Linked DNA regions of Homo sapiens: region 1 is linked to region 2. Evidence: fine-mapped expression QTL. A gene starts in region 2. The other region holds a variant in brackets. All regions are shown on one strand. Distances are from middle to middle. Region 1 has its middle 33 kb from the start of FTH1. Region 2 holds the start of FTH1 (ferritin heavy chain 1).

What was found. PIP is the estimated chance that this variant, and not a neighbour inherited with it, causes the effect.
Region 1: its variant is the best candidate, but not a certain one, in a credible set for the expression of FTH1 in NK cells (Gilchrist 2021, PIP 0.68).

Annotation. Positions count from the first base shown.
Region 1 is chr11:61,992,850-62,009,053 of GRCh38, forward strand. No RefSeq gene overlaps it. Among named protein-coding and RNA genes, the nearest start is that of FTH1, 33 kb to the left of the region's middle. RefSeq lists an enhancer at 7,888-8,640. The variant G/A (reference allele first, on the strand shown) is at 9,493.
Region 2 is chr11:61,964,019-61,979,102 of GRCh38, forward strand. It overlaps FTH1 (ferritin heavy chain 1), which reads right to left and starts at 3,616. Exons shown (of 4, transcript NM_002032.3): 1 at 3,294-3,616; 2 at 1,351-1,497; 3 at 969-1,094; 4 at 267-873. The coding sequence starts at 3,407. The coding sequence ends at 709. It overlaps BEST1 (bestrophin 1), which reads left to right. Exons shown (of 11, transcript NM_004183.4): 11 at 86-443. The coding sequence ends at 104. It overlaps LOC399900 (a long non-coding RNA gene), which reads left to right and starts at 3,276. Exons shown (of 1, transcript NR_187560.1): 1 at 3,276-4,861. RefSeq lists enhancers at 1,622-1,851, 4,483-4,552, 4,673-4,722, 7,859-8,153, 7,957-8,101 and 1 more, silencers at 3,143-3,342, 3,613-3,962, 14,363-14,579 and cis regulatory regions at 7,588-8,347, 7,593-8,104, 8,024-8,034.

The DNA of each region.
Region 1 (16,204 bases), 29 kb after region 2:
CAACAACAACAACAAAAATGGCTGAAGAAATCCTTGATTTCCCCACTTCTTTCCCCCACATATAAGTTAGTTTTCTAGTATCCAGTAAACTTAAAAAATTATGAACTCCTGGATTTAAAAGTATTTGATTAACTATAATTCAATTAACTATAATTATTGTCTGTATTGATTTTCAAATTATCTCAATTTGGGTCCAGTAGCAGCCTATTCACCTTGACCGTGAGTCCTTTTGACATGGCCTCTATAATAGAGATCTTTGATTAGTTCTTTGCTTTCTGGTATGATGACCTGTTCCAGGCTTAAGCTCACTTTGTACATTTACTTCTACTCCCCAGGCTTGCAATCAGCCATTTCTCCAAGGAGTCCTGGTTCCTTTGGTGGAAATATTAGGTTAGTGTCAAAGTAATTGCAGTTTGCCAAAGTAATTACTTTTGCACCAATCTTAATAGCATTTATAAGTCACCATCTGGGTACCAGAAGCACTCATTGTTTCTGTGTTCAATAATGCTAGACCTTTTCAGAGGACACAGGACCGTTTAAAAAAATTTTTTTAAGAAGAAAAATGAGTTCATTCTGAGACTTTCATTTCGAATTCAGAAGTCTAGGGTTTTTGCTTCATCTTAAAGATTTTTTTTTTTTTTTGGGGGGGGAAGGAGTCTCGCTCTGTCGCCCAGGCTGGAGTGCAGTGGCGTGATCTTGGCTCACTGCAAGCTCCGCCTCCCGGATTCACGCCGTTCTTCTGTCTCAGCCTCCCGAGTAGCTGGGACTACAGGCGCCTGCCACCACGCCCACCTAATTTTTTGTATTTTTAGTAGAGACGGGGTTTCACCATTTTAGCCAGGATGATCTCAATCTCCTGACCTCGTGATCCGCCTGCCTCGGCCTCCCAAAGTGCTGGGATTACAGGAGTGAGCCACCGCACCCGGCCTCATCTTAAAGATTTTACATCCGAATTGTCTTTCTTCTAATGCCCCAAATATCTGTTCTCAAGTACAATTACAGAATTAAGTATAATTACAGAATTATTTATTTATATTTTTCTCCACGACATACACAGCAGTGTTAAAGTAATAATCCCTATACTACCACTAAACAATTATTATTGAAAACAGCTTAATATTTTGATCTTGTAGTTTTCTTCGTATAGTAAATCCCACGAGGAATATACAGTCAAATGAATGTACTTTAAAGCTCCTTTGGAAGAGCTCCTCTCTGTGTTTTTGCTACCAACCCATTCAACCCATTACACAGTTAGGAGCATTTACTTCATTTTGCTTTCAATTTTTAGAATTGCTTTTAAAAGTTTAATTTAGTTTTATAATTATGTAAAATATGTGCATGGTCAAAGTCAAATGTGTAAAATAAGATATATTTAAAAGGATCTAGGCTGGGAATGGTGGCTCATGCCTGTAGTCCCAGCACTTTGGGAGGCTGAAGTGGGGAGGATCACTTGAGCTCAGGAGTTCAAGACCAGCCTGGGCAATGTAGCAAGACCCCATCTGTACAACAATTAAAAATTTTGTATTAAAAAAAGCTAAATGTGGTGGTGCATGCCTGTTGTCCTAGCTACATGGGAGGCTGAGGTGGAAGGACCGCTTAAGCCCAGGATTTTAAGGCTGCAGTGAGCTATTACGATGCTACTGCATGGGTGACAGAGCAAGACCCTGTCTCAAAAATAAATAAATAAATAAATAAATAAGTGGATCTTGTGTCTATTCTCCCCCCACTGTATTCTTTCTTTCTGTTAAACTATCAATGTTTGGTATTTAATTATAAGAAAGTATTTACTTTTATTTTTTTAAGACAGAGTCTCGCTCTGTCGCCAGGCTGGAGTGCGGTGGCGTGATCTCAGCTCACTGCAACCTCTGCCTCCCGGGTTCAAGCGATTTTCCTGCCTCAGCCTCCCGAGGAGCTGGGACTACAGACTGCGTGCCACCACGCCTGGCTAATTTTTTATATTTTTAGTAGAGATGGGTTTCACCGTGTTAGCTAGACTGGTCTCGATCTCCTGACCTCATGATCTCCCTGTCTCAGCCTCCCAAAGTGCAGGGATTACAGGTGTGAGCCACCGTGTCCGGCCCTGTATTTACGTATTTTTGTTTATATCTTTCCTTCTTAGAGAAACAGATCCTAAGATGTCCTTAGGATCACACTATATTAGTTTGTAGAGATCTTCCTTGTTCTTTTTGTGGCTGCAAAGTACCCCATTGTGTAGATGTGCTATTGTTTATTTCTCAAAGTCCTTATTGATGGATTTTTGGCTTTTTCCCATGCTTTGGTTTTTACAAACAGAGCTGCAATAAACAGCATATCTCTGTGTCTTTTTGTATTGTTTGCAGTGTATCGTTAGTATAGATTCCTAGATGTGGGATTGCAGGATCAAAGGGCAAATGCGCTCATAATTTTGCTAGCTATTACCAAATTCTCTTCTACAGTGACCGTACCATTTTGCATTCCCACCAGGAATATGTGAGAATGTTGGTTTTCTCACAGTTTGGAAAAGAGAGTATAGAGTATTAAGCTTTTGGATTTTGGCCAATCTGATCAACAAGAAATAGTTACTTGGGGCAATTTGTGTTTCTTTTACTGTAAGCAAGGTTGAGTGTCTTTCCGTATAGTTTTGAAATATTTGCCTTTCTTTTTCTGTAAACTGTTTGTATTTTTAGGGCATTTTTCTTTCAGGTTGTTGGCCTTTTTAATCTATATTAGGAGCTCTTCATATACTAAGAATATTGGCCCTTTGTCCGTGATGTAGGTTGTAAGGTTGTTGTTTTTTGTTAAACCAGTCTATCATTTGTCTTTTTAATTTCGCATATGTTTAAAATTTTCATTTAATTTTTTTTCCATACAGAACTTTAATTCCTTGAGACTTGTTCATCTTTTCCCCTTATTGTTTCTAGGTGTTGAGTCAGAATTAGGAAATTTTTCCTCACTCCCAAATTATAAGAGAATTGGTCCATGTTTTCTGTTAGACTTGTATGGTTTCATCTTTACATTTAAATCTCCAACCCCGCCGGGCACAGTGGCTCACACCTGTAATCCCAGCACTTTGGGAGGCCAAGGCGGGCAGATCACTTGAGGTCAGGAGTTCAAGACCAGCCTGGCCAACATGGTGAAACCCTGTCTCTACTAAAAATACAAAAATTAGCCGAGTGTGATGGCAGGCACCTGTAATCCCAGCTACTCGGGAGGCTAAGGTAGGAGAATTGCTTGAACCTGGGATGCAGAGGTTGCAGTGAGCCCAGATTGCACCACAGCACTCCAACCTGGGTGACAGAGTGAGACTTCGTCGCTAAATAAATAAATAAATAAATAAATCTCCAACCCCTTTGGAATGCACTGTGGTCCACAGCATGAGGAGTGCTTCCAGCTGGTTCTGAGTCCACAAGGCTCTCCTGCTATCCTGACACCAGCTATGAAGTCACCCATTCTTTCTGTTTTTTTTATTTATTTATTTATTTATTTATTTATTTATTTATTTATTGTTTTGAGTCAGAGTCTCACTCTGTCACTCAGGTTGGAGTGCAATGGCACAATCTCTGGCTCAATACAACCTCTGCCTCCCGGGTTCAAGCAATTCTCCTGCCTCAGCCTCCCGAGTAGCTGGGATTACAGGCGCCTGCCACCATGCCCGGCTATTTTTTGTGTTTTTAGTAGAGACAGGGTTTCACCATATTGGCCAGGCTGGTCTCAAACTCCTGACCTCGTGATCTGCCCACCTCGGCCTCCCAAAATGCTGGGATTACAGGCTTGAGCCACCGCGCCCAGCCCATCTTTCTGTTTTTTTTTGAGACGGAGTCTTGCTCTGTCGCCCAGGCTGGAGTGTAATGGCACAATCTCGGCTCACTGCAACCTCCACCTCTCAGATTCAAGGGATTCTCCTGCCTCAGCCTCCCGAGTAGCTGGGATTACAGGTGCATGCCACCAGGCCCAGCTAATTTTTGTATTTTTAGTAGAGGTGGGGTTTCACCATGTTGGCCAGGCTGGTCTCGAACTCCTGACCTCAGGTGATCCACCCGCCTCAGCCTCCCAAAGTGCTGGGATTACAGGCATAAGCCATTGTGCCCTACCAAAGTCACCCATTCTTTCCCATGACTTGGGATGCTGTCTGTATCAGACATCAGCTTTCCATAGGCCATGGGAGCAATTTCTGGATTTTATGCTGTGTTCTTCAGAAGGATCGCTTCATTTTATTCATCCCTCCCTGCCAATGTCCTCCCAGCTTCTCCAGGATAGTAGGGTGTCAGGCAGAGCATCTGTAGCGGGAGGCGCTGTGGGGCTGGCTCTAGGGCTGCGGAAGGCTTTCACCTGACAACAAAGCCCTTTGTTCCAGGCTCAGAGATCAAGCTTTGGAGGCAAATGGTCTTGAGAGGGAGATCTGCCAATCCCTACTAAGCCACACTTTGCAGATAGAGAGGCATTTCTGGAGAATGACCTTCAGAGAAGAAGAGTGGGCATTGGAGGGGCCTCTGGCAGGAGGAGACCCCTATTCTGTCCCTGGGGAAAGGATGGATAGGACCAAACATTCTACATTTAGAACCAGTGCTGGGGCCTGCAGGGAATCAAATCCTGGCTAATGATGGCCCTTGAGGGATGACTAATCTTCATAAGCAAGACAGAACCATCATCTATGCAGCTACCTACCCATCCACTCGTCTTAATATTAAGATGATATATTAAGATGATATAATATTTATATTAATATAAATATTCACTTAATATTTAATTCACTCCATAGCAAGCACAATGCTCTGTGCTGTGGGGGAGAGAGTCAGCACTCTGTTCCTGCCCCTTGTTTAGGGAGATGAGAGCAGAAGCTCCGTGGGTCTACAAGATAAAAATACCATAAAAAGGCTGGGCACAGTGGCTCACACCTGTAATCCCAGCACTTTGGGAGGCCGAGGTGGGCGGATCACGAGGTCAGGAGATCAAGACCATGCTGGCTAATATGGTGAAACCCCGTCTCTACTAAAAATACAAAAAAATTAACCGGGTATGGTGGTGGGCACCTGTAGTCCCAGCTACTCGGGAGGCTGAGGCAGGAGAATGGTGTGAACCTGGGAGGTGGAGCTTGCTGTGAGCCAAGATCGCGCCACTGCACTCCAGCCTGGGCGACAGAGCGAGACTCCGTCTCAAAAAAAAAAAAAAATCATAAAAAGAGGCATGGCCTTGTTTTCTGAGCAATGTTCAACACATGTGTTCTTTTCTTTTGAGACAGGGACTCACTTTGTCACCCAGGCTGGAGTGCAGTGGCACGATCTTGGCTCACTGCAACCTCTGCTTCCCAGGCTCAAGTGATCCTCCTGTCTCAGCCCCCCAAGTAGCTGGGACTACAGGCACATACCACCGTACCAAGCTAATTTTTGATTTTTTGTCTTTTTTGGTTTTTTTTTTGTTTGTTTGTTTGTTTGTTTTGTAGAGACACGGTTTTGCCATGTTGCCCAGGTTGGTCTCAAACTTCCGGAGCTCAAGCAATCCACCTGCCTCGGCCTTCCAAAGTCCTGGGATTACAGGTGTGAGCCACCATGCCCGGCGATTACATCTGCTTAAGTAAATCATTGGTCCCATGTCTCAACTCTGCTGGCTAGAAATACAAATTCTAGGAGGAGAAGAAGGCCAGGGGAATAGAATGACGAGGAAAAATCTTTAATGACATGCTGAGCTGTCATGTTATAAAGAAACAAAAAAATACTTTCTGGGAGACAGGCTTGAAGTGGAGACAGAGAGACGTCATTTCCAGCCTAGGGGCTCTAGGGTGAATTTGTCAAATTGATTTTTGGTGGGTTGTTTTGGGGCAGATTGCTTTTCAATAAATTGTCTGCCTGCAGCACGGTATGAAAGGTATGAAAGGTGTCCTTTGGAAGGGTCGCGGCTCCCACTTCCCTCCAGCACTTTTAAGACATAGTGGGCCAGGCACAGTGGCTCATGCCTGTAATCCCAGCTATCCAGGAGGCTGAGTCAAGAGAATCACTTGAAACCAGGAGGCAGAGGTTGCAGTGAGCTGAGATGGCACCACTGCACTCCAGCCTGGGTGACAGAGTGAGACCCTGTCTCAGAAAAAAAAAAGAAAAAAAAAAAAGAAAAGAAAAGAAATGAAAAATGGATGTGGAAAGTAAAATTCCTCTTCAAAGTTTCCCTTCTTGTTAAAGAATAAATAATAAATGTTAGAAATAATAGTTTATTTTAAAGACTAACTTCCTCCAAAGCCTTCTTGCTTTTTGCTAATAACTCTTTGTTAAGCCCTATCCTACGTAGCTGTTAGATATAAGGGAATAAGTATATTCTATGTCCTTGTACTTTAACCAAGATATTTGTTCTGGGCATGCTCAGGCATGTCCCAGCTCACAGCCTTTGCCCCTTCCTTATTTGGAAATGTTGTTACTTCTCTAAGTCCTTTCGCAAGCCTCTTTTCCTTTTGTTCTCCATTACCTTTACCTATTTAGGAAAGTCTTAAATTGTTAGCCAGCTGGGTTTAACTTAGACTGTGAGGTCCAGCTCCAACCAATGGAGATAGGACACAGCAGTAAGGACCCAGTGCATAGGGGATAAATATTCCTGTCTTTCTTTGTTCAGTGTGGTCTCGTGGCAAGATTGCTGACAAGCAGCACCTTTTCTGCAGTAAGTAAAATTGCCTTGCTGTGAAAACTTTTTGTCTGAATGCTGATTTCTCCTTGCGGCACCAAGGAACAAGCATTTTGTTTCTAACAATGGATAAATGTTGGAGAAGATGGATATGCTAATTACCCTGATCTGATCACTAGAAATTGTATATATTGAAATATCACTATGTACCCCACTGATATGTACAATTATGTGTCATTTAAAAAATAAAATAAATAGCTGGATGCAGTGGCTCATGTCTGTAAGCCCAACATTTTGGGAAGCCAAGGCGGGAGGATCGCTGGAGCCCAGGAGTTCTGAGACCAGCGTGGGCAACATAGGGAGAGGTCTTGTCTACTAAAACAAACAAACAAAAAAACTAGCTGGGCCCAGTGGTGTGCACCTGTAGTGTCAGCTACTCAGGAGGCTGAAGTGGGAGGATTGCTGGAGCTGGGGAGTTCGAAGTTGCCATAATCATACCACTGCACTCCAGCCTGGGTGACAGAGTAAGACCCTGTCTCTAAAAAAATTAAAAAATAGGCTGGGTGCAGTGGCTCACGTCTGTAATCCCAGCACTTTGGGAGGCCGAGGCAGGTGGATTACAAGGACCAGCCTGGCCCACATGGTGAAACCCCATCTCTATTAAAAATACAAAAATTAGCTGGGCATGGTGGCAGGCACCTGTAATCCCAGCTACTCAGGAAGCTGAGGCAGGAGAATCACTTGAGCCCGGGATGCGGACGTTGCAGTGAGCTGAGATCACACCATTGCACTCCAGTCTGAGCCACAGAGCAAGAGTCCGTCTCAAAAAAAAAAAAAAAATTAGCCAGGCGTGGTGGCAGGCACCTGTGGTCCCCGCTACTTGGGAGGCTGAGGCAGGAGAATGACTTGAACCCGGGAGGCAGAGGTTGCAGTGAGCCGAGATCGCACTACTGCACTCCAGCCTGGGTGATGGGGCAAGACTCTGTCTCAAATAAATAAATAAATAAATAAAATAATAAATAATAAAAATTAAAAAATAGAATAAAATAAAGGCAGACCCTAAAGGCCCAGAGTAGGGTAGGGCCATAGGCAGTGAAGCCCACCTCCTCTCTGGATGTGCATCTGCTTGAGGTCATTCCTGCTCTGCTCACCTCCTGGCGTCCCTGTGAGGATGGACGGATATGAAGACCCTGTAACCTGTTGAGTGTCCCGACAATAACATCATTGATCGTTTGCCTAGATTTTGCAACCCCTGCCCCCACTGCTAAACCACAGTTTATTGCTTAGCAGCTCTGACCTTATACCTCCTTATCTCTCTGAGGTGGCCTTGAAGCCCAAGTGTCACAGAGTCAAACATGGTTAAAGAGTAAAAGTGGCTTTAGAAATCATGATGTCTGGGAATTCTCAGCAGCTGGAGCTGCCCCCACTCTGCCTCTGTTGAGACTTTCATGGGAAGCCGGGGTTTTTAGGGGAGCATGTCCTGACCCTCGGCTGTGTACAGAAGGAAGAATTACCTGGGTGGTTTGACCAAGTCCAGGCTGCCCCCAGCCCAGGACTCCTCTACATGCAGGACCAGGCTGGCGATGTTCACCAGCTCTCCCGGACCGCCCACCTGGGCCAGGAGAACCAGAGGCTCAGTCCAGGTGGGGTTGGGGGACTCACCATGATGTGGCCCCTTCCTCTGCTGGTCCATAGCAGAATGGGACCCTTCTTTCTGCCTGTTCCTTAACCCATTGCTACCTGTCCTGGGGAGTAACATCCACAGCCTCTGAGTGCCCCCGCTATGACGCAGCCTGCTCCCACTCTGCTCATCGTCTTCGGATCCAGTGTCTGCTTCTTGGGCCTTTGTGCCACGTGGCATGCTTCCTACCTCCTCTCCGTCCTGGTCCCCTCCCCAGCCTTGCTCTCCTGCCTGCCGAAGTGGCGCCCGGTGCAGAGAAAAGACAGGCCCCGCCCGAGGTAGACTTGGGCGCGCTTTGTGTTGCTTACGGTGGCTGGTGGCAAAGTGCTGCCCCAGGGCCTTTAGAAAGACCCTAAGGAGAAACCGTCAAGAAGCCCCAGGAAGTGACGAAATCAGGAACACCCTCACCCTGGGATCTGGGAGGGGGTTGAGTGATTTTTCCTCCCCCTGCATGTCATTATCATGATTATTTTCCTAGAGAAAACCACACCTGTCGATTGGATCTCCCAGTCCTGGTGTGGGGGGTTAACTCAGGAGGGTCAGCTGGAGGAAACAATGAGAGGGGTGAATAGAGGGGTGAGGGCTCGAAGTTCCTAAGCTCGTCTTGCCTACCCCTGAGACCCCTCAGCGTCTTTCTGGTCAATTAAGTAAAAGAAGCTGTCCTGAGCTCAGTGGGTGGCCTAGCAGTGTGGGAGCAGGCCTCTTAGTCCGCAGTTCAAGGGCCTGGCTTTGGGGCTGCACGGAGCCTTGGCAGGGAGCCCACTGCAAGGTTAATCTGTACCTTCTCTGGCTCCACATCTGCTGGAAGAAGAGAGCAAAACCTTTGTTCCCTCTGCTGGAAGAGGAGTTTGGAGCCTATCTTGCCAAAAAAGACTGTGTTTGTAAGTATTCAGTAGATTTGTGTGTACGAAGAGAAGTCAGCAGAAGCATTTTCACCCAGAGAAGAAATTTCATCACCCTCATCCTTGGCGCATGGGAGTCAGGCAGTCTGTACAGCGAGTGATGGGAATGTCTGACTCCATGAGGCACTGAAGAGAAAACAGAAGGCTGTGTTCTCTCCTCGTGAAAGCTAAGGGTCCCTGCTGACAGTGTAGCTTGCCATCGACGGCTCTGCTTAGTCAAAATGACGCTCCATGTGTTCATTTATTTTTTGAGACAGGGTCTCGCTCTGTTGCTCAGGCTGGAGTGCAGTGGCACGATCTCAGCTCACTGCAACCTCTGCCTCCTGG[G/A]TTCAAGCGATTCTCCTGCTTCAACCTCCCAAGTAGCTGGGAAAATAGGCATGCACCACCACTCCCGGCTAATTTCTGTAGTTTTGGTAGAGACAGGGTTTCACCATATTGGCCAGGCTGGTCTTGAACTCCTGACCTCAAGGGATCCACCCGCCTCAGCCTCCCAAAGTGTTGAGATTACAGGCGTGAGCCACCATGCTTGGCCAACGCTCCATGTAAATGTGTATACACTTTATGCAGACAGGAAAGATTTCCTGCTTCCATGAGCATCCCCGCGAGTAACCAGATGAGAGGGATAACAATCCAAGAGATTTTCCAGAGTGCTCCCTGGACCTCCAGATTCCGGCATTTTCGATGCCCCTCAGGACTTCCATATTCGCTGTTCTCTCTGCCCGGATGCTCTTCCCTTAATCTCTCCTGGGCTGGCCTCTTCTCAGAATGGAGGGCTCAGCTGGAGAGTCAGCTCCTAGCAGCCTTCCCTGACCCCTCCGCAAAGGAGTTCATCTCCCCAAGACTCAGTCCCTCTCTATGCCATTACTGGTTTTGCTTTCTTGTAGTTAACACTATTTCCGTGGAATATACTGACCCTTTCCAGCCTCCACTGACTATAGTGTGAACTTTCTGAGAGTCATTGGGCCTTACTGTCATCATCACTGCCGTATCCCAGTACCTAGAAGGGTGTCTGGCACCTGGGGATGTTCAGTCATTATCTATTGGATGGGTGGATGGTACTTGGGTTTGGATGGAGTGAGGAAGAAGATGACTTGGAGAGACAAGTTGAGCCAAGAGGACGAGTTGGCCTTTTCTTTCTTCAGCTTTCCTCTTCACATATGCCCCTGAGGGGAGATCGCTGGAGAAAGAGGCAGCCCACTGTCCCTGTCCCTGGAAACACCTTCACCAACAATGGGCTGATATTCTCCCTACGCTGGGCCAGGCAGATGGAGTCTCCTTCAGCCGAGATGTTTCTGGGGCAGAAGATGCACCTCTGCCACCATCCTTTACTTAAACCGGAAGACTCCCAGCCCCTGTGAACAAGTCCGTCGGAAGTTCTCTGTCTGCATGGGGCTAGAACCCAGGGAACCCCAGGCTGGAAAAAGTGGGTGGGCCCACATGGCTTGCAGAACTTTAAAAGTAAGTGACACAGGTGGGAACAGGCTGAAGGAGCTAGGTTTCTGTTTTTTTTGTTTTGTTTTGTTTTGTTTGAGATAGTCTCGCTCTTGTCATACAGGCTGGAGTGCAGTGGCGCGATCTTGGCTCACTGCAACCTCTGCTTCCCGGGATCAAGCAATTCTCTTGCCTCAGCCTCCCAAGTAGCTGGGATTACATGTGCCTGCCACCCTACCCAGCTAATTTTTTGTATTTTTAGTAGAGATGGGGTTTCACCATGTTGGCCAGGGTGGTCTCGAACTCCTGACCTCAGGTGATCCACCTGCCTCGGCCTCCCAAAGTGCTGGGATTACAGGCGCGAGCCACTGCGCCTCGCCTTCTTTTTTTTTTTTTTGGATGGAGTCTTGCTCTTGTCGCCCAGGCTGGAGTGCAGTGGAGCAATTTCGGCTCACTGCAACCTCCACCTTCCGGGTTCAAGCTATTCTCCTGCCTCAGCCTCCTGCGTAGCTGTGATTACAGGTGCCTGCCACCACGCCCAGCTAATTTTTGTATTTTTAGTAGAGACGGGGTTTCACCATGTTGGCCAGGCTGGTCTCGAACTCCTGACCTCAGGTGATCCACCCTCCTCAGCCTCCCAAAGTGCTGGGATTACAGGTGTGAGCCACCGTGACCTGCCAGGGTACAAATTTTCTTTTTTTTTTTTTTTTAGACGGAGTCTCGCTCTGTCGCCCAGGCTGGAGTGCAGTGGCACGATCTCGGCTCACTGCAACCTCTGCCCCTCCAGGTTTAAGCAATTCTCTGCCTCAGCCTCTGGAGTAGCTGGGATTACAGGCATGCGCCACCACGCCTGGATAATTTTTTTGTATTTTTAGTAGAGACGGGGTTTCACCATCTTGGCCAGGCTGGTCTTGAACTCCTGACCTCGTGATCCACCCGCCTTGGCCTCCCAAAGTGCTGGGATTACAGGCGTGTGCCACTGCGCCTGGCCATGGATACATATTTTCTAACTCATTCTCCTGGTTTCAGCGTTTTGTGTTTTTGGGTGTTAGGCTTGCTAGAATTGTAACCTTTGCCTTCCTGGAACAGAAAGCTCCAACTTTGTGTGTAATTTTACTGAAGTGGACCCACTCCTCAGAAAACAAAAAGAGAAAAACCCCAGGGGAATTAGGATACACACATATTGCAAAAGCCTCTGTGGTCAAGTGTGCGGGATTTCCAGAGGAAATGAAAGTCAGGACCAGCAAGAATATCAGACCAGCTGGCCAGAGCCCACCTCCATGGCTAGTCTTGCCCTGCAGCCAAGAACAAGCTTACTTCCTCTGAGTCAGCTCATAAGCCCTCCTTGGACCACAACCCTGGGCTGCATGTCAGTGCCACTGCCATGGTGGGTCCCCTGAGAGTCTAGGAGGCCTTAGAAAGATTCCGAGGCCTGGCCATGCATGGATTTTGCTCTTAAAAAATGTCTCTCAGCTGGGCGCAGTGGCTCACACCTGTAATCCCAGCACTTTGGGAGGCCAAGGCAGGCAGATCACAAGGCCAGGAGATCGAGACCAGCCTGGCGAACGTGGTGAAACCCTATCTCTACTAAAAATACAAAAATTAGCTGGGCATGGTGGTAGCATGTGCCTGTAGTCCCAGCCACTCGGGAGGTTGAGGCAGGAGAATCGCTTGAACCTGGGAAGCGGAGGTTACAGTGAGCCGAGATCGTGCCACTGCACTCCAGCCTGGCAACAGAGCGAGACTCCGTCTCAAAACAAACAAACAAAAAAATGTCTCTCTCCTCTCTTTCAAATGAGCAGCTGCCCGAGAACCCACAGGAATGGATGGAAGGATAGAAAAAGGCAGAAAAGACACCCGCGGGACACTTTGGAAGCCAGTGCCATCTCTCTGTTCTCTAACAGTGCTAAGAAAGGATGGGCCTGTGGGTAATCATTCTGATCAAAAGCCAAGGCAGCAGCTGGACTGTGCCTCCAAACTGTTCTGGAGGAAGAAAATATGCAAAGAAAGATGTTATTCAGGGCTGCAAGCAGCCTCCCTCTTCTGCTCAATCTCCCTCTTTCTCTCTGAAATTCTTCCCACCCACGGGTGCCAGCTTTTTCTGTCCCATGATGTCGGGGGTTGGGACGGGGGATGGGAGAACTGACTGCCTGACTCCACCTGACCAGCTGCCTGCAATCTGTAGGTCGTGGAGTATAGGAGATCCAGACTGTTCCCCAGACACCAACTGCCAGCCTTTAAGTGTCCTCCATTTGCTACCACCCAGGGGACCAAGGGTTTTTCTCTCCCACAAACCATATAATTGGACTCACAGCCTTTTTCTTTTAGGAGAGCTTACTGAGGGGTTGATAGGAAGGGCACTGACAAGATGGGGGGCTACCAGCTTCCCCAGGGGAAGTGACTCCTAGGCCAAGACTTTACAGCGTGAATTTGTGTTTCTCTGACTTGGACAGTTGGTTAAGATTAAAAAGGAGAAGCCATTTTTCAGCGTGTGGATGGCCACCTCCCCAGAAGAGTTTCTCTTCTGGGAATAAAATAGGAACCAAGGGGCTTGATGCAGTGGCTCACGCCTGTAATCCCAGCACTTTGGGAGGCTGAGGCAGGTGGATCACCTGAGGTCAGGAGTTCAAGGCAAGCCTGGCCAATATGGTGAAACCCCGTCTCTACTAAAAATACAAAAAATTGGCCGGGCACAGTGGCTCACGCCTGTAATGCCAGCCCTTCGGAAGGCCGAGGCGGGTGGTTCACGAGGTCAGGAGATCGAGACCATCCTGGCTAACATGGTGAAGCCCCGTCTCTATTAAAAACACAAAAAATTAGCTGGGCATGGTGGTGGGCGCCTATAGTCCCAGTTACTTGGGAGGCTGAGGCAGAGGAATGGTGTGAACCCGGGAGGCGGAGCTTGCAGTGAGCAGAGATCTCACCACTGCACTCCAACCTGGGCAACAAAGCAAGACTGGGTCTCAAAAAAAAAAAAAATTAGGCGGCTGTGATGGCACGCACCCATAGTCCCAGCTACTTGGGAGGCTGAGGCAGGAGAACTGCTTGAACCCGGGAGATGGAGGTTGCAGTGAGTCGAGATCGTGCCACTGCTCTCCAGCCTGGGCGACGAGCGAGACTTCGTCTCCAAAGAAAAAGGAACCAAGGTCATACCAATGTTCAAAGTTCAGATAAGGCTGAATGTGGTGCTTATGCCTATACTCCCAGCTGCTTGGGAGGCTGAGGTAAAGGGATCGCTTGATCCCGGGAGACTGAGTCTACAGTGAGCTGCAATCATGCCACTGCCCTCCAGCTTGGGCAACAGAATGAGACCCAGTCTCAAAAAAAAAAAAAATTTAGATAAGATATTTTGACTGAAAATCTATCATGAACCCCAAATATTCTGCCCAGGCCAATGTAGTCCAGGGAGAAGAGTGTTTTGCTTTATTAAATTTGTTTCTCTAAAGAGTTGGACCTGTGTTCATTTGCCTCTTTCTCCAATGCCTTAGAAATTAATGGTGTAGATCAATGAGGTACAACTTAGAGTCTAGAAATAAACCTATACACGTAAGGTCAATTAACTTTCAAAAAGGGTGCCACAGGCCAGGCACGGTGACTCACGCCTGTCATCCCAGCACTTTGGGAGACTGAGAAGGGTGGATCACCTGAGATCAGGAGTTTGAGACCAGCCTGGCCAACATGGTGAAAGCCCATCTCTACTAAAAATACAAAAATTATTCGGTGTGGTGGCAGGTGCCTGTAATTCCAGCTACTTGGGAGGCTGAGCAGGAGAATCATTTGAACCCGAGAGGTGGAGTCTGCAGTGAGCCGAGAATGCGCCACTGCACCCCAGCCTGGGTGACAGAGCGAGATTTCATCTAAAAAAAAAAAAAAAGTTGGAGGGGCCACAGTCATTCAATAAATGGAGCTGGAACAGGCTGGAACAACTGGATATCCATGTTCAAAAGAAAGAAGTTGGACCCTTACCTCATACTATGTACAAAATTTACTCAAAATGGATCAAATATCTAAATGTAAGAGCTAAAAACTACCAAACTCATAGAAGAAAACATAGGGCTAAGTCTTCATGACCTTGGATTTGGCTATGGATTCTTAGATATGACACCAAAAGCACAAGCAAGTAACAAAAGAAAAAGTGGACTTCATTGGTATCTAAAACTTTTGTGCATCAAAGACCACTATCATGAAAGTGAAGCAATAACCCAAAAATGGGAAAAATATTTGCAAGTCATATATCTGATAAGAGTCTAGGATCCAGAATACGTAAAGAACTGTTAGAACTCAACAATTCAAAAAACAAACAAACAAATGAGCAAAGGACTTGATTGTACATTTCTCCGCAAAAGATCTGCAAATGGTCAATAAACATGGTCCTCAACATCATCAGTCATTAGGGAAATGCAAATAAAAATCACAATGAGGGCTGGATGTGGCGGCTCATGCCTGTAATCCCAGCACATTGGGAGGCTGAGGTGGGCAGGTCACAAGGTCAAAAGATCCAGACCATTCTGGCCAACATGGTGAAACCCCGTCTCTACTAAAAATACAAAAATTAGCTGGGCGTTGTGGCACGCACCTGTAGTCTCAGCTACTCGGGAGGCTGAGGCAGGAGAATCACTTGAATCCAGGAGGCAGAGGTTGCAGTGAGCCGAGATCGTGCCACTCCAGACTGACAACAGAGCAAGACCCCGTCTTGAAAAAAAAAAAAAAAAACCACAATGAGATACCACTCCCTACCCACTAGGATGGCTATAACTAAAAACACTGAAAATAACAAGTGTTGGTGAGGATGTGGAGAAATTGGAAACTTCATACATTGCTGGTAAAATGGTACAGCTATTGTAGAAAACTTTTTGGCAGTCTTCGAACACTTAACTGTGGAATTACCATATGACCCAGCAATTTCACTCTTAGGTATATACCCAAAAGAAGTGAAAACAGAAACTGGTACTTGAATGTTCATAGTAGCATTATGTGTAATACCCAAAGGTTTGAAGCAACCCAAATGCCCATCAACTGGTGATTGGGTAAACAAAATATGCTATATTTATTCATTTCATGGAGTTTTCTTCAACCATAAAATAATGAAGTATTGATAGATGCTACCACATGGATGAATCTTGGAAACTATGCAAGATGCCAGACACAACAGCCCACATATCATATGATTCCATTTATATGAAATGTCCAGGCTGGGCGCAGTGGCTCACACCTGTAATCCGAGTGCTTTGGGAGGCCGAAGCGGGTGGATCAGGAGGTCAGAAGATCGAGACCATCCTGGCTAACACGGTGAAACCCCGTCTCTACTAAAAATACAAAAAATTAGCTGGGTGTGGTGGTGGGCACCTGTAGTCCCAGCTACTTGGGAGGCTGAGGCAGGAGAATGGCGTGAACCCGGGAGGCAGAGCTTGCGGTGAGCCGAGATCACACCACTGCACTCCAGCTGGGGTGACAGTGCGAGACTCTGTCTCAAAAAAAAAAGAAAAAAAAAAAAGAAATGTCCAGAATAGGCAAATCCATAGAGACAGCAGAGTAGTGGTTGCTGGGGAACTGGAGAGAAGGGACAATGGCAGTCACTGCTTAATGGGTATGGAGTTTCCTTTTGGGG
Region 2 (15,084 bases):
CCTTTGCCCTCCTACTGCAACATTTTGGTATTTGAAATGAAGGGACCTTCCATACTTATGCTGTTAATACTTTCATTCTCACTAGGGATGAAGCACATTCCTAACCTGCTTCCTAATGGGGATGCTTCGCCAGCCAGGTCCTCACCTGTGTGTACACCAGCAGGACACTGATCCAGTCACAGCCATACAGCTGTCCACACTGAAGAACATGTCCTACAACAGCCTGAATCAAATGGTTAGCTTAATAGATAAAAATCCCAGACTACTTCAGCCTTTAATGCCTTTTATTCATAAAAACTGTGAAAGCTAGACTGAACCATTGGAAACATTTAACTCAGACTCTGGATTCAGAGTCGGGAACCCTTAGTTCTATCTGAATCCAAGACAGCCACACCTTAGTATACTGCCCAAACTAATGAGTTTAATAAATACAAATACTCGTTTCTTTTTGATTAGTGTGATTAGAACTGAACAACGGCACTTAAGGAATCTGGAAGATAGCCTGGATAGATTTCTGATTCATCCCAAGACCTCAAAGACAACACCTGGGTACCAAATTTCTTTATTTGAAGGAATGGTACAAATCAAAGAACTTAAGTGGATGTTTTGGTACAACTTATAGAAAAGGTAAAGGAAACCCCAACATGCATGCACTGCCTTGGTGACCAGGGAAGTCACCCCACGGCTATGGGGAAATTAGCCCGAGGCTTAGCTTTCATTATCACTGTCTCCCAGGGTGTGCTTGTCAAAGAGATATTCCGCCAAGCCAGATTCGGGCGCTCCCATCTTGCGCAAGTTGGTCACGTGGTCACCCAATTCTTTGATGGCTTTCACCTGCTCATTCAGGTAATGTGTCTCAATGAAGTCACACAACTGCAAAACAATGGGGAAGACAGTTAGTGGGCAGCTTTCCCAATCCCTAAGGCAAATGATTTCCTCCATTTATTTCCTGGGGTTCCAATACTCACATGGGGGTCATTTTTGTCAGTGGCCAGTTTGTGCAGTTCCAGTAGTGACTGATTCACATTTTTTTCCAAATGTAATGCACACTCCATTGCATTCAGCCCGCTCTCCCAGTCATCACAGTCTGGTTTCTGAATGAGAATAGGTTAATGCATCTCTACCAACTAACCTAGAAGTCAGCAAGCCCATCATCTCTAACCACCACGTTTTGGCAAAAGGGACATTACTATTTGCCTAATTTAGTTTAGATGGTAAGCCTAAAAAAGCACAAAAGGCAAAAGCCCAGTGTATCATCACTTTATAAGGGCAATTGCTAGTTTAAGTGATTTCTGATACCCGAACACTGCCAGATGATGAAGTATGACACCCCTAGGATCTTTTGTTCACCTTGATATCCTGAAGGAAGATTCGGCCACCTCGTTGGTTCTGCAGCTTCATCAGTTTCTCAGCATGTTCCCTCTCCTCATGAGATTGGTGAAGAAAGTATTTGGCAAAGTTCTTCAAAGCCACATCATCGCGGTCAAAGTAGTAAGACTGAAAGGGGAACACTGAATGTGTTATACTAGGGATCCCCAGAGACAGGTAGCTGTGACGATCTACAGGGAGGCAAGATGGTCTCGTCAGCCTAGGCTTCCTTTCTCAAAGCACAGCATGAAGGAATCAGTGCCTAAGGAGACTGGGGGGCAGATGAGCTACTGGATTGAACCCAAGAGTAATGTTTCTATTCTAAAATAGAAAACTGAAACTTGATCCTTGAAACTTAACTTCAAGGAACCTTTAGGATATTATGGGCATTGCCTGGGGCAATGTCTTAAGGATCTGTATTACTGCACAGAAAACTTACAGCCAGTGTCAGAATTCATTGTCTGATGAGAGGGCGCTGGAGTACTGACCCTGCACTTAGTCCTTTTCTCCTCCCTGCTCCTGTATTAACCATGTTAAAGCATGGTTAAAACTGAGCTCAGGAGTCTGCCAGCTGTACCACATATTTATTTATAAAATTAAAAACCCCTGCTGGGTGCGGTGGCTCAGCCTGTAATCCCAGCACTTTGGGAGGCCGAGGCAGGCGGATCACGAGGTCAGCAGATCGAGACCATCCTGGTCAACATGGTGAAACCCCGTCTCTACTAAAAATAAAAAAAAATAGCTGGGCGTGGTGGCGTGCGCCTGTAATTCCAGCTACTCAGGAGCCTGAGGTAAGAGAATCACTTGAACCCAGGAGGCGGAGGCTGCAGTGAGCCGAGATCGCGCCACTGCACTCCAGCCTGGGCGACAGAGCGAGACTCTGTCTCTCACACACACACACAAATTAAAAACCCCCATGCAAGGTGGCAAATGTGGACAGTATGTTGATGTAAACATACTTTTATAATAGTTATATCACAAAAATTTGATTTTCAGTTTTAGACATTTGATGTAGTCAAGTGTTTGTGAAAGGCAGTGACAGTCACAGAAATACAGGCCTGTTTTCAAATCCATTTGGAACACATTTATTCTTGGGATAGTTTGGACAATCACAAGGCAATTCTAAGGAAGACTCCCACGACACTGCCTAAGACCAAGATTTGGGAAAACTGATTCCACTGATCACTGAAAAATTTCTTGCCCAGTAACTGTCGGTGGACTTTATCCAAGAACTGGGGGTTCAATTAGTAGGCCAAACTCCACACCTCTTACAGTAAGATACATAAAAGATAAATTAGGTCCCCTAGGCGCAAGGTCAGGTGACACTTCGGTGACTGCAGAAGGGGCGATTCCTAGAGATATGCTTCAAAGCAAGTGGGACTTAGAGATAAGCAGAGCCGAGAGGTGGATACGGCTGCTCGAGAGGGATCTACCCACAAGATAAGCCACCTCCCGCCAGCCCCCAAGGTTTGCTATTCGACACCGTTACCCAGCAGCTCCGCCACACACAGGCGGACGGGAGCTGGATACCTAAGCAAAAAACGCTGGCATTTAGGGCCAAATGCCGGAGGCAGAGGAAAAGATGGGAAAGCAAAACTCCACCTTCCTAACCGCAGGATTGATCACACAGGCTGGCAGTCTTGCAACCCCAGGATTTCAGGACACCAAGGTCTCCTTAAAAAAGAAGGGTGTGCAGAGGCGGCCCTGGCCTAGGAGGGAGCATTCTCAGGGTACAGCCGAGAAGAACCAGCTGCCCCGACTTTCTGCGCCAGAGAAGTCCTCGGAAACCTCGAGCAGCCTCCATTTTCCAGAAGGGCGCAGGGAGGCGGGAGAGCCCGCGGGTGGCCACACCCCCGGCCCGCCCCAGCGCGCGCCCCGGGAACCGCGCCCGGCCCCCGCCACCGCTTAGGCCCGCCCGCGCTCACCATGGACAGGTAAACGTAGGAGGCGTAGAGCTCCAGGTTGATCTGGCGGTTGATGGCGGCCTCTGAGTCCTGGTGGTAGTTCTGGCGCACCTGCGAGGTGGACGCGGTCGTCATGGCGGCGACTAAGGAGAGGCGGCGGCGGCGGCGGTGGCTGCGCGGCGCTGGAGCGGCGGCGGGGGCCTTGGGGCAGTCCGAGGGTGCGGTGAAGAGGTGACGGAGGGCTGGCTATGGGCGGCCGGCCGGGGTGGGGAACGAGCGCCGGGTTCCGTCCAAGCACTGTTGAAGCAGGAAACCCCGACGACTCTCGGCGAAGAACGTCTGGCCCTGCGGGTCGCTTGTGGTCTCTTATAGCCGCGTCGGCGTCAGGCCCGCCCCGGCCAATCAGCGCCGCCCGCCCCGAGCCCGCTCCTTCCGGTGGGCGCGGGACCCCGCCCCTGCTGTGGGGGAGGGGCGGCCGCTGGAGGCCCTCGCGCGCTCTGGCGGAGCTCGGGAGCGGGGACCGGTAGCCGACTGCCTCTGGGACAGCGGTGGCGTCTCTGTGCCCGTTTAGTGGAGTTGGAGGGAAGCTGCGAGGAGGCGCAGGAAGTCCACCTCAGAACCCCCCCCCCGGTCTAGGGGCGCCCGGGCGTTGGAACCGGCGGGGGAAGGGTGCGGGGGCGCATGGGGTGATCCTGATTCGGCTCCCATTTTCCCGAACGGGCACCCTGAGGCTCCTGGCCCGGGGCATGGTGTTAGAAATCATAGCTGCGGAGAAGCCCTTGTGACACCTTGCTGCAGATTGGGAAGCTGCAGATGATTGGGAAGGTGGAAGGTGGAGACGCGGTCCTTAGGTGGTCGAGCGCATTTTCTCTTCCTCAGAGTCCAGGAAGGAGCGCGATGGAGAAGTGGGGCGCACGGCGGGTTTCGGGTCCGCCCCTGCCCTTCCGACTCCTCCGACCACGTCTGCCTTTGGCTGAAAGCAAATATGGCTCCGTGTGCGGTTTCTGCAACAAAGGCTGGGCGGGCCGGGTTTCCCTAGGGATGGGGACCGCCTCCCCGGGGAGTCGTGGGGGTGAGCCACCGGGGCCTCCGAGAGAATCGCTGGTGTCGCTTCGCACCCAAGGGACACATCTCGGGTTAGAAAGGAGAAACGACGTGGATCTAAAGGCGAAGCCCATGCTGAGGACTTTTCAAAATGGCCTCTTATCGGCCCCACTCACAGGAGCTTCAGGCTTCGGTGGCCCTGTAGGACAACCCTGGGGTGTCATTGGAGAGAAGCTGACGGGGTTAATGGCGGGTGACAGGTGAAAGAGACCCCGGAGGGGTGGGGCCGGTGTGTGTGGCTAAGCTGAGTCCCAGGCACAGGGTGGATGTGAATTTATGGGTGGCAGAGCTAGAGCTAGGCCCTGCCCTTACCTAGGTCCTGGCTTCGAGGTCCACTGTTCTGTCGCGTCTTTTGACGCATCGGTGGAAGAACTGAATTTCAGGATGCTCACAAACCTGCAGCTGGAAGCTAGACTTCCAAACCTTAGTTTAAAAAAGCAACTCTACTGAAATACTAAAATAAATTGCCGACGGAATTAGGGTGATTTCTTGTTCACGGTTTCATTTAAAAATGCACCTATGTTATTTACAGGAAAAACGTTTTAGTGGTGCTAGAGCTACAAGAATAAGGTAAACAGAAGGATGCTGCTAGACCAGGAGTACCTTACCCAGTCTGGGATAGGAGGAGGTCGGGGAAGCCCTCCCTAAGCAAGACACGTGAGCTGAGTTTGAAGAAAAAGTTAAAAGGAAGGTGAAGTGCGGGAGAGAAACAGGGAAGGGAATTTGGAGCAGAGTGAACAGCATATGCAAAGGTGTGGAAATGTGGAAATGCATGGCCTGTTAAAGCTGCCTTAAGAAAATATGTTGCCTGGGGCTGGGCGCGGTGGCTCATGCCTGTAATCCCAGCATTTTGGGAGGCCGAGGCGGGCGGATCACTTGAGGTCGGAGTTGGAGATCAGCCTGGCTAACTAACATGGCTAAACCCTTCTCTACTGAAAATACAAAAATTAGCCGGGCGTGGTGGCATGCGCCTGTAATCCTAGCTATTCTGGAGGCTGAGGCAGGAGAATCGCTTGAACCTGGGAGGCGGAGGTTGCAGTGAGCCGAGATCGCGCCTTTGCACTCCAGCCTGGAAGACAAAACAAAACTCCGTCTCAAAAAAAAAAAAAAAAAAGAAAGAAAGAAAGAATGTTGGCCTGGAAAGTACAGTTTATGTTGGGGGATGCTGGTTAGGGTGGAGAATAGGGGCAAGATCGGGCAGGGTTGTGTTCCATAAAAAGAGGTTAAACTTGATCCTAGAGACAGCATAGAGACACCTCATTAGCTTTGTTTTTAGAAACCTTACACTGGGAATCTCTTAGGATAAGAGTATAGCAAAGTCACCATATATAGGATCCAAAGCTTTCCTTTATAACAGTAACCACCAGTTAGAAAATATGGGGAAAAAAGAATGGAAAAAAAAATGTTTTTCACTTACATTGACAACAAAAGCTTAAAGTACCTTGGAATAAAGTTAACAAGAAATATATAGAAAAAACTATAAATGCTTACTGCTGGACAAAAAATTCAAAAAGCCTAGCATAAATGAAGAGGTACCATATTCCCAAATGGTCGGTCAATCTTCATTCTGTAAAGATGTCAGTTTCCCCAAATAAGCATAAATTCACTGCAATTTCCATAAGAGGCAGTTTTTTGTTTTTGTTTTTCCTCAGCCATTACTGTCTCTGGGACAGTATTTTTTTTTTTTTTGAAACTTCACAAAATGATTCTAAAGTTCATTTGGAGGAGTCAGTGTGTTGATAGATTTGCATTTGGTGCTATAATAAAGGTACAGTAAAGTGCTATAAGCAGTATGGTACTGGCACAGGAAGAGATGACTAGATTAATGCAACAAAATAGTCCTGCCCCCCTATTATGAGAACTTGGTATATGCTAAACTGTTGTGTCACATTAGGGAAGAAAGAATGGGTTTAACAAATTATGTTGAAACAATTGACAGTCATGTGGAGAAAAGTGACTCACTCAGTATTTAAAAATACATTCCAGATAGATTAAAAATCCAAGCCTTAAAAAAAGTATAAAGTTTTGAGAAGAATATATACAAGATTATTTTTATAATTTTGGGGTAGGGAATGTTCTTCTGAGGCTGTCAGAAGCCGTAAAAGTACAGTTGGCAGGTTTGCCTATTTAAAAATGAAAAGCTGTAAGACAAAAGATGTTGTAAACAAGGTTAAAACAGAGATGACAAATTGGGATGATATTTGTAGCTCATGTAAGTGATGAAGATTAGGAACTATAATATATATTTGTATGTTTAATGAAGTACTATGTATGTGTCACACCTTTTTTTTTGAGATGGAGTTTTGCCCTTGTTGCCCAGGCTGGAGTGCAGTGGCTTGATCTCGGCTCACTGCAACCTCCACCTCCCGGGTTCAAGAGATCCTCCTGCCACAGCCTCCCAAGTAGCTGGGACTACAGGTGCCTACCACCACACCTGGCTGATTTTTGTGTTTTTAATAGAGACGGGGTTTCACCATGTTGGCCAGGCTGGTCTCGAACTCCTGACCTCAAGTGATCCACCTGCCTCGGCCTCCCAAAGTGCTGGGATTACAGGCATGACCCACCGCACCTGGCCTTATGAGACCCTTTTGATTGCCTGCGCTGGTGCTGTAGATGGTAAGCTCCTGGAAGGCAGGCATTGTTTCTGTCTTGTCTCTGCACTCCCAGCTTTTTGCAAATTGCTTGTTACTTGGTGCCCAGTATCTGTTGCATGAACAGATGGATTCATGATTGAATGTGGAGGATGGATGAGAGTGAGGCTAGAGGGCTGGGCACCAGTCAGGAGGCAGCAGCCTTAGTTATTAGTGAGCAGAGAAGATAGAACACAGATTTGACAGATCTGGAGAAGATCAAATGAACAGACTGATTGGCGAAAGTCGGGGGCCAGGGGTGGGCAGTGTGTAAGAGATCTCTCAGCTTTATGATTTGGTAGGCCTGGCTGCTGCTGCCATTCCCTGAGCCAAGGAGCACAGGAGGAAATGAAGGTTTCGGGGAAAGCCCTTGGGGAAGGCCTGCTTGGTTTTGGACTAGATGTGCTGAGTTTCCAGGCTTCCGGGATGTCCAGGGGGACAAAGCCAGCATGAAGCTCTCGGACCCACTGGAGGGAAGTCGGTCTGCTGCAGGGAGTAGGTTTCCTGAATCAGTGTTGGCTCCATGCTTGGCTAAACATGCATGTAGCTGCAGTGAACATCGCAGCAAGACTGAGGGACAGCTTGTGCTGTAGAAGGTCATTGGGAGGAGGCTGGCTGGGAACAATGGAAGGGAAATCTATTGGTGGGGGAGTGTGAGTGTGTGTGTGTGTTTATGATTGTTTATATGATTGCTTGTGTCCGTTCCCTACTTTCTGGTAACTTGAGGTGTCAGAACTGCAATGTCTAAGCCTTTAGATTCTTCCGAAGCTGTGGCCTGGTCTTGGGACCTTTGTTGACCAGGGTTCTACCTCCCCCACCCTCCAGCTCAGCTCCTCGTGACTTGGAGGCAGCAGAGAGTTTGGCTGGTCTCCCAGGACAGCCGCCTCCCAGGGCCAGGAGTGGCGGGAGGGACCTCAGATGAGAGAAGAGCCAAGCCGGTGGTTTCTGGAGGTTCAGCACATCCTGGAGCAGGAGGGGGCGGTGGTGGGGGTTGCGGTGGAGAGTTGCTGTCCCACCGTGACTCAGCACTCTGCTAGGCTGGGCTTGGGCTCAAAAAGTGCTTTGTCATGGAGGAGAAGAGCAGTCATAAGACCTGGAGGGCTGTGGCTTCACTGTGGAGGGAGGGAGGGAGGGAGGGAGGGAGGGAGGGAGAGTGTCCCCCTCCCCCCATTTCCTAATGGGACAAAGTCCAGAGGCCGGACTGGGAACAAAGGGGTCTGAGATCACTCAGGGGGGCCTCTGATGGTGTTTTTGCTGGCAAGCCTAGGTGTCACTTTTCCTACCTATCCCTCGCTCAGTGCCTTCCCGCCGCATGGGGAATTCTCAATAGATGTTGGGTCCCTTTCTCTTCTAGGGATTGTTATTGTGTAGTCACAATTTAGGATCCACAGCTAGGAAATCATAGACCCCCCACAAATTTTAAGGCTTTGGAAAGGACGTTAGAGCTTCCAAATCATCATGTTTTACAGATAAGGTGAGACCCAAAAAAGGTTAGGCTTGCCCAAAGCCGTAGAGTCACTGGCTGAAACACAAGCTGAAAACTAGGACAGGGCACATGATGGAACCCCGCATGGCCATTAAATACAGTAAGTGTGTTTAATAAGTGTGTTGCTGGAATGTGTGTGTGCAGGAATGCTATGTGAAAAGGCCAGACCCCAAACCGTTCCACAGGCTGATTGCAACAAAGAAAAACCTCAGGGCTGGAGACATAGATGAGGATTGGGAGAGAATGGGTTACGTGGTATTTTAACTGAAGAGCTGATGTTTTAAATGTCTGGGATTTCCCCTGAAGTGAAGTGAAGTAAAGCAGGAAATTCGAGTTTTGAAATTCAGACCAAAGGAAAAACAATACTAAATCAGTATTTGGGTACATTTCTGGATGATGCAATCATACTCACAGAGCTTGTCCTGAAATCATTTCTTGAAAACCCTTGAGGCCATGTAAACTCAGAGTCTAGGTACTTGGAATCCCCCGCTTCCAGAAGGTTAACGAGAGCCACAGCCTGCGATGTTTGAGGACAACTGTGAATGGAAGGCAAGGCCCATTTTTGAATGCTAACTCAGGCCTCACTGCACTCCAGACTTCTGCCAGAGACCCTATCACATGCCCTAGCTATGTGTTTACCTCCTGGCTGGACTTTGAAGTTTTAAGCTGTGTCCCCAACCCTGGCACAGCCCGGGGGTCCCTCCAGTTGTAGCAGTTTGCAGCTCTGTACCTCTTCTCTGGAATGGTCATGCCCAGCAGAGCATCGGCTCTCTACCTTTGGACTAGCGGCTCCTGGAGATCAAGGGTCTTGCCTTTAACAGTCCCCAGCTGTATCCTTCCCAGTGAGCCCCTGGGATATGCACACAGTGAAGAGGCCACGTGGCCTCTCTGAACTTTGATTCCTGTATTATTTATGGTATCTGAAGCCAGCCCTCTCCCATGCTACCTTGAGTACCCGCTCTGGGCGCCCTCTTTACCACAGTTCCCGTTGCACCCCGTCAGCTGGGACCCAGCCACATGGCATCCCCACATCACCCCATCCAGGCTCAGCTGTGCTCACCCTGGCCAAATCAGGGGAGGCCCAGCTCAGCGCAGGTGACAGGTGGGAGCCATGGCTAGCAGCCTTGGGAGGAGGATGAAAAAACAGAAAAATGTCTTGCAAGTCTGGGCAGGGACCTCAGCAGCCAGAGGCCTTGGCAGCCAGGGGCTGGGAGTGCCTCCTCATGGAAATGGGAACTATGCCTCAGGAGTTTTCACTGTGTAGACACTCACTATGGTGGAGGGGAACGATGGCTGCACAGCACAGTCCCTTGAGCACCGGGTCGGAGGGAGTAGGGATCAAGAGGATCTGAGAGATCAGCAGCCAGGGACTAACCCAGCTGGGAGGCAGCAGAATGAAGCAGCCGGAAAGAGCGGCTAGGGCTTTCCTGCCCCCAGAGAAGGGGCACAATCCAGGAGAGCTAGTGAGTCTTGCTGGGCCAGCAGATGGGGCCTCGGTCAGCAGAGGGAAATCCTGAGTGTCCTATGAGAGGGTCAGGACCCCAAAGATCTCACCCTCAGCATGGATGAGGCCTCCCTCCAGCCTGTGGCTGTTCCCACTGTCCCAGGCTCCCTATTTCCTGCCTCTACCACCTCCTGCAGTCCCACTCTCTCTAATTTGTCTCTTTTCTGTCTGTCCCAGCATTATGAAATACAAAGATAAGCACTTTGTGATTACAACTCCTTAAAGGAGGCCGGTACAGTGGCTCACACCTGTAATCCCAGTACTTTGGAGGCCGAGGTGGGTTGATTGCTTGAGCCCAGGAGTTTGAGACCAGCCTGGGTGACATAGCAAGTCCCTCTCTCTCCAAAAAAAACACAAAAATTAGCCGGGTATGATGGCACAGGCCTGTAGTCCCAGCTATTCAGGAGGCTGAGGGAGGAGGATTGCTTGAGCCCAGGAGTTTGAGACCAGCCTGGGTGACATAGCAAGTCCCTCTCTCTCCAAAAAAAAAACACAAAAATTAGCCAGGTATGATGGCACAGGCCTGTAGTCCCAGCTATTCAGGAGGCTGAGGGAGGAGGATTGCTTGAGCCCAGGAGTTTGAGACCAGCCTGGGTGACATAGCAAGTCCCTCTCTCTCCAAAAAAAAACACAAAAATTAGCCGGGTATGATGGCACAGGCCTGTAGTCCCAGCTATTCAGGAGGCTGAGGGAAGAGGATTGCTTGAGCCCAGGAGTTTGAGACCAGCCTGGGTGACATAGCAAGTCCCTCTCTCTCCAAAAAAAAAAAAACACAAAAATTAGCCGGGTATGATGGCACAGGCCTGTAGTCCCAGCTATTCAGGAGGCTGAGGGAGGAGGATTGCTTGAGCCCAGGAATTCGAAGCTGCAGTCAGCAATGATTGTGCCACTGCACTCCAGCCTGGGCGACAGAGCCAAACCTTGTCTCTAAAAAAAATAAAAAATAAAATAAAACTCCTTAAGTGCTCTCCACTGCCCTTGGGATATAATTGTAATTCCAGGGTATGGCCCAGCCACTCACCCCCAGGCTTCTCTCTAGCCCTCCAGGGTTCCCCTCACACCTTGGGACTTGGCACAGCTGTTTGATCTGCCCAGACGGCCTGCCCCTCACTCTTCTGCATGAAAAAGTACCCAGCCTTCAACACCGGGCTCAAATATGCTCCCAAAGCTCCCTGCACTGCCCCGCAGAGCTGAGAATTTCCATTCTTTGTGCCCTCCAGCACTCCGAGCGCGTGGTCTCCACTGCCACGCAGTATTACAGTGACCTGCTCCATACCCACCTCCCCCACAGCAAGGGAACCTCTGCCCTGTTTATCTTGGCCATGCCTTTGCCTTTCCCACCTCAGCACCTGGCAAAGTACTCACAGTTTCACAGGCTCCCAGACTACCGACAAATATGGGCTGGATTTAACTTGGACTTAGCTCTTAGCCCAACTCTTATTCATCTTTCCTGTTGCTGAGCGTTAGGCTGCCCCACCACTACCCCGTGCCTCATAGGTTTTTTGTTTTTTTGACAGTCTTGCTGTGTTACCTAGGCTGGAGTGCAGTGGGGCCATCTCAGCTCACTACAACCTCTGCCTCCCGGGTTCAAGTGATTCTCCTACCTCAGCCTCCTGAGTAACTGGGATTACAGGCATGCACCACCATGCCCAGCGAATTGTTGTATTTTTAGTAGAACAGGGTTTTGCCATTTTGCTCATGCTGGTCTCGAAGTGCGGCCTCAAACAATCCGCCCACCTCAGCCTCCCAAAATGCTGGCGTGAGCCACTGGGCCCGGCCAGGTTTGGTTTTTCCATCTTTACTTAATTAAGACTACCAGCTGTTTCTACCTCCCGTATGGAAGATGCTGGGAATTGGTGAGTCTTTCTGGGGTTTCAGGATTATTCCTAGGCAGAGACCTGAAGACACTGTGAGGCAGTCGGGGCTGGGACCAGCGCGGCCATGGGGATGGAGATGTCACAGTCACAGGCTCTGTGGCTCTGAGGACCAATTCCTGTGGCTTGCTTTTGTGGCCACAGAGTGTTTCCTCAACTGGAGGAATCTGTGGGCTGTCACTAGGGACCAATGTGGGAGGAAAGCAAGAAGGGTTGGTATAAAAATCAGCTTGCTACTACAAAACAATGTCCTATCCTTCCTGGCGGTGGGCCAGTGCATTGTTGGAGTTTTCATTCCATAAAATAACAGATTTTTACATAAAGTAAGTTGACACCTTCGGGGCTGACACTGACAGCACCTCTGAGTAGGTAGGGCAGGTAGCCCGTGCTGGCAGCAGAGGTTTCCTTTATCCAGTGAGGAAACTGGAAGTCAGAGAGGTTAAGAGACGGCCTTGCCTAAGATTGCGCAGCTGGTAAGAGACAGGGCTCTGACCAGAATCTGGACTCTGATTGTGGTGCAATTTTCTGAATCTGGTGCCCTGACACAGCCATGACGGCAATTCTTAAACTCAGCACATACATTACCCTTAATCTCGAAGCATGCAGGAAGAAGAGCTCCAAGATTCCACTTGCTGAGGCTTCTGAAATATCCCTGCAGGTGGAGAGCACTTCCTGCAGCCCTGAATCCTGAAGGCGAGCCAGCACCCAACTTCGGTGGGCTTCAAGCCACTGGAGTTGGCCGAGGGTGCTTTCAAAGTAGTTGCTGTGATTCTACCAGCAGCAAAGCTGTCACGGGTGATCTTTGAAATTAATGGGCTGATTTGATTAGTAACTGAAGTCTGTTTGCTTGGTGGGAGTTTTGTGGTTCTTTGGATGGCACTCTTGGGGATCTCGTGGCAGGGCTTAGCGAATTGGACTTGGTCTTGAGTTATCTGGACTTGGTGCTAATGGCTGGCAGGCCCAGGAGATGCCTGGGCAGCCCGTAGACTGGGGCTATCCAGTGGCATTCTGAGCAGGGCAGTGGGTCTCGGCCCACATGGGAGAGCTAAGGGTATTTCTGGAGCATGTAATTCCCAGGGACCATGGCTGGCTCCTCAGACCCCCATTACTCCCACTGTGCTTGGCTGGTCCTCCCAGGGGCTGGGGGCCTCTGCTCAGCCACAAGACACACCATATTAGGGAGTGGTGGGAGATGCTTCCCTGAGGGTCTCATGGTACCTCCTTCGTATGTAGGATCTGAGAACCATATAAACTTGCCTAAAAGAGTCTCGGGGCCTCTGGAGCTGAAGCTGTTCACATGCCGGGAAGCATAGGATGACCCACCTCCAAACTGGGGCAACACCAGCTCCTCCCCTGGGGCCTTAGCCCACCCTTGGTTTTCTGTGCGGAGGGCTCACCCACCTTTCTGACAAAGCTTCTGATGGCTCAGAAGCCAGTTGGCCTGAGTCAGAGCCAGGAGAGCCTTCCCATGGGAAGGGGCTTTACATGCTATTACCTTTCTCATCTGTTTCCAGCTGCACGGATGATATGCTAACCCCCTGTCAAACATCCCTGCCTTTTGTAATTCTTTGAAAGCATTAGTTGGAACCAAGTGGCTCTCGTTTTTCCCCACTATTTACTCACCTATCCAGCTGCCCTTTCAATATCGTGGGTGTGTATGTGGGTGGACAGGGGTGTGTATGTGTAGTGGCAGGAATCCGGATGTTTTGCTTTTTGCTTTTTTCTGGAATTGATTTCTCCAGATCCATACCTACTCCCCAATATCCACCTGTCTTCTGGACACTAGATCCAGATTTTCCTCTGGGGAACTATTTCCCTCCCTCCAACCTCTGTGATGTGCTATAATTGGAACTGCCTCCATCCCTAGATTCAGGGATAGACATGTTTTGTTTTACTTGCAACAGATTTTTCAGTCAACTTACCTTTTATATCAGGGGTCCCCAACCCCTGGTCCATAGACTGGTACCGAAGGTGCATAGACTGTGCACCTCCAGGCTGCATGGCAGGAGGTGAGCAGTGGGTGAATGAACATTACCTCCAAGCTCTGCCTGCTGGTTATCCCAGCTCTGCCTCCTGTCAGATCAGCAGTGGCATTAGCTTCTCATAGGAGTGTGAACCCTACGGTGAACTGCACGTGACAGGGATCTAGGTTGTGCGCTCCTTATGAGAACCTAACTAATGCCTGATGATCTGAGGTGGAACAGTTTCATCCTGAAACCATCTCCCTCCCCCACCCCTTGTCCATGGAAAAAATTGTCTTCCACAAAACCGGTGCCTGGTGTCAAAAAGGCTGGGGACCACTGTTTTACATCATCTAAATGGCAACTGATTCCTGCATGGGTCTCAGAATTTTCAAGACAGGAAGGAGCCTTTGAGACTATCTAATACTTTCAATCACTCAACTAATGTTTTTATTTTGTTATTATTTTTTTAAAAATAGAGACAGGGTCTCAACTCTGTCACCGAGGCTGGAGTGCAGTAGCACGATCGTAGCTCACTGCAGCCACCAACTCCTGGGCTCAAGTAGTCCTCCCACCTCAGCCTCCTGAGTAGCTGGGATTACAGGTGCATGCCACTACACCTGGCTAATTAGAGCAATTTTTGATGGGGTCTCACTATATTGCCCAGGCTGGTCCCAAACTCCTGACCTCCAAAGATCCTCCTGCCTCAGCCTCCCCAAAGCTTGGGATTACAGGCCTGAGCCACTGCACTTGGCTTCAAACATTTTTAAATGCCAGCTCTATGCCAGTCCTTGGGTTAGATGAAGAAAATGATATCTGGGGCTGGGGATTTGGGGTGACCAGATCAGGGTTACAGGGAAAGTCGGTGGCTGAGCCAAGGACCAAAACCTAGGCCTTCTGACTCCCACACCAGCCTTCTTTCCTCATGCTTCTCTGCTTCCTGAGATTAAATTCTTCTGGCAGTGCTCAAGTACGGTTATGTGATTATGAAAAAACACAGGGAACTCTGTGCCAAGCAGCTATCATTGGTTTCCTGGGCAGGGTTGCAGAGAAAGAGGAGAAGGACAAAGGAACTTCTCCCACCCCTGTGTGCCAGCCTCAGCTCTCTGGCGGGGGGCAAAACAGGCTCGTGGGGCTGCCTGAGGGCTTGTCCTCTGGTGTCCCTCCTCTGGGCCCCAACAGTCCTCTGCTTCATCCACACCAGCCCCTGGGGTGCCCCACCGCACCCCTGGTCCCCCGCCTCTGTCCTTTGT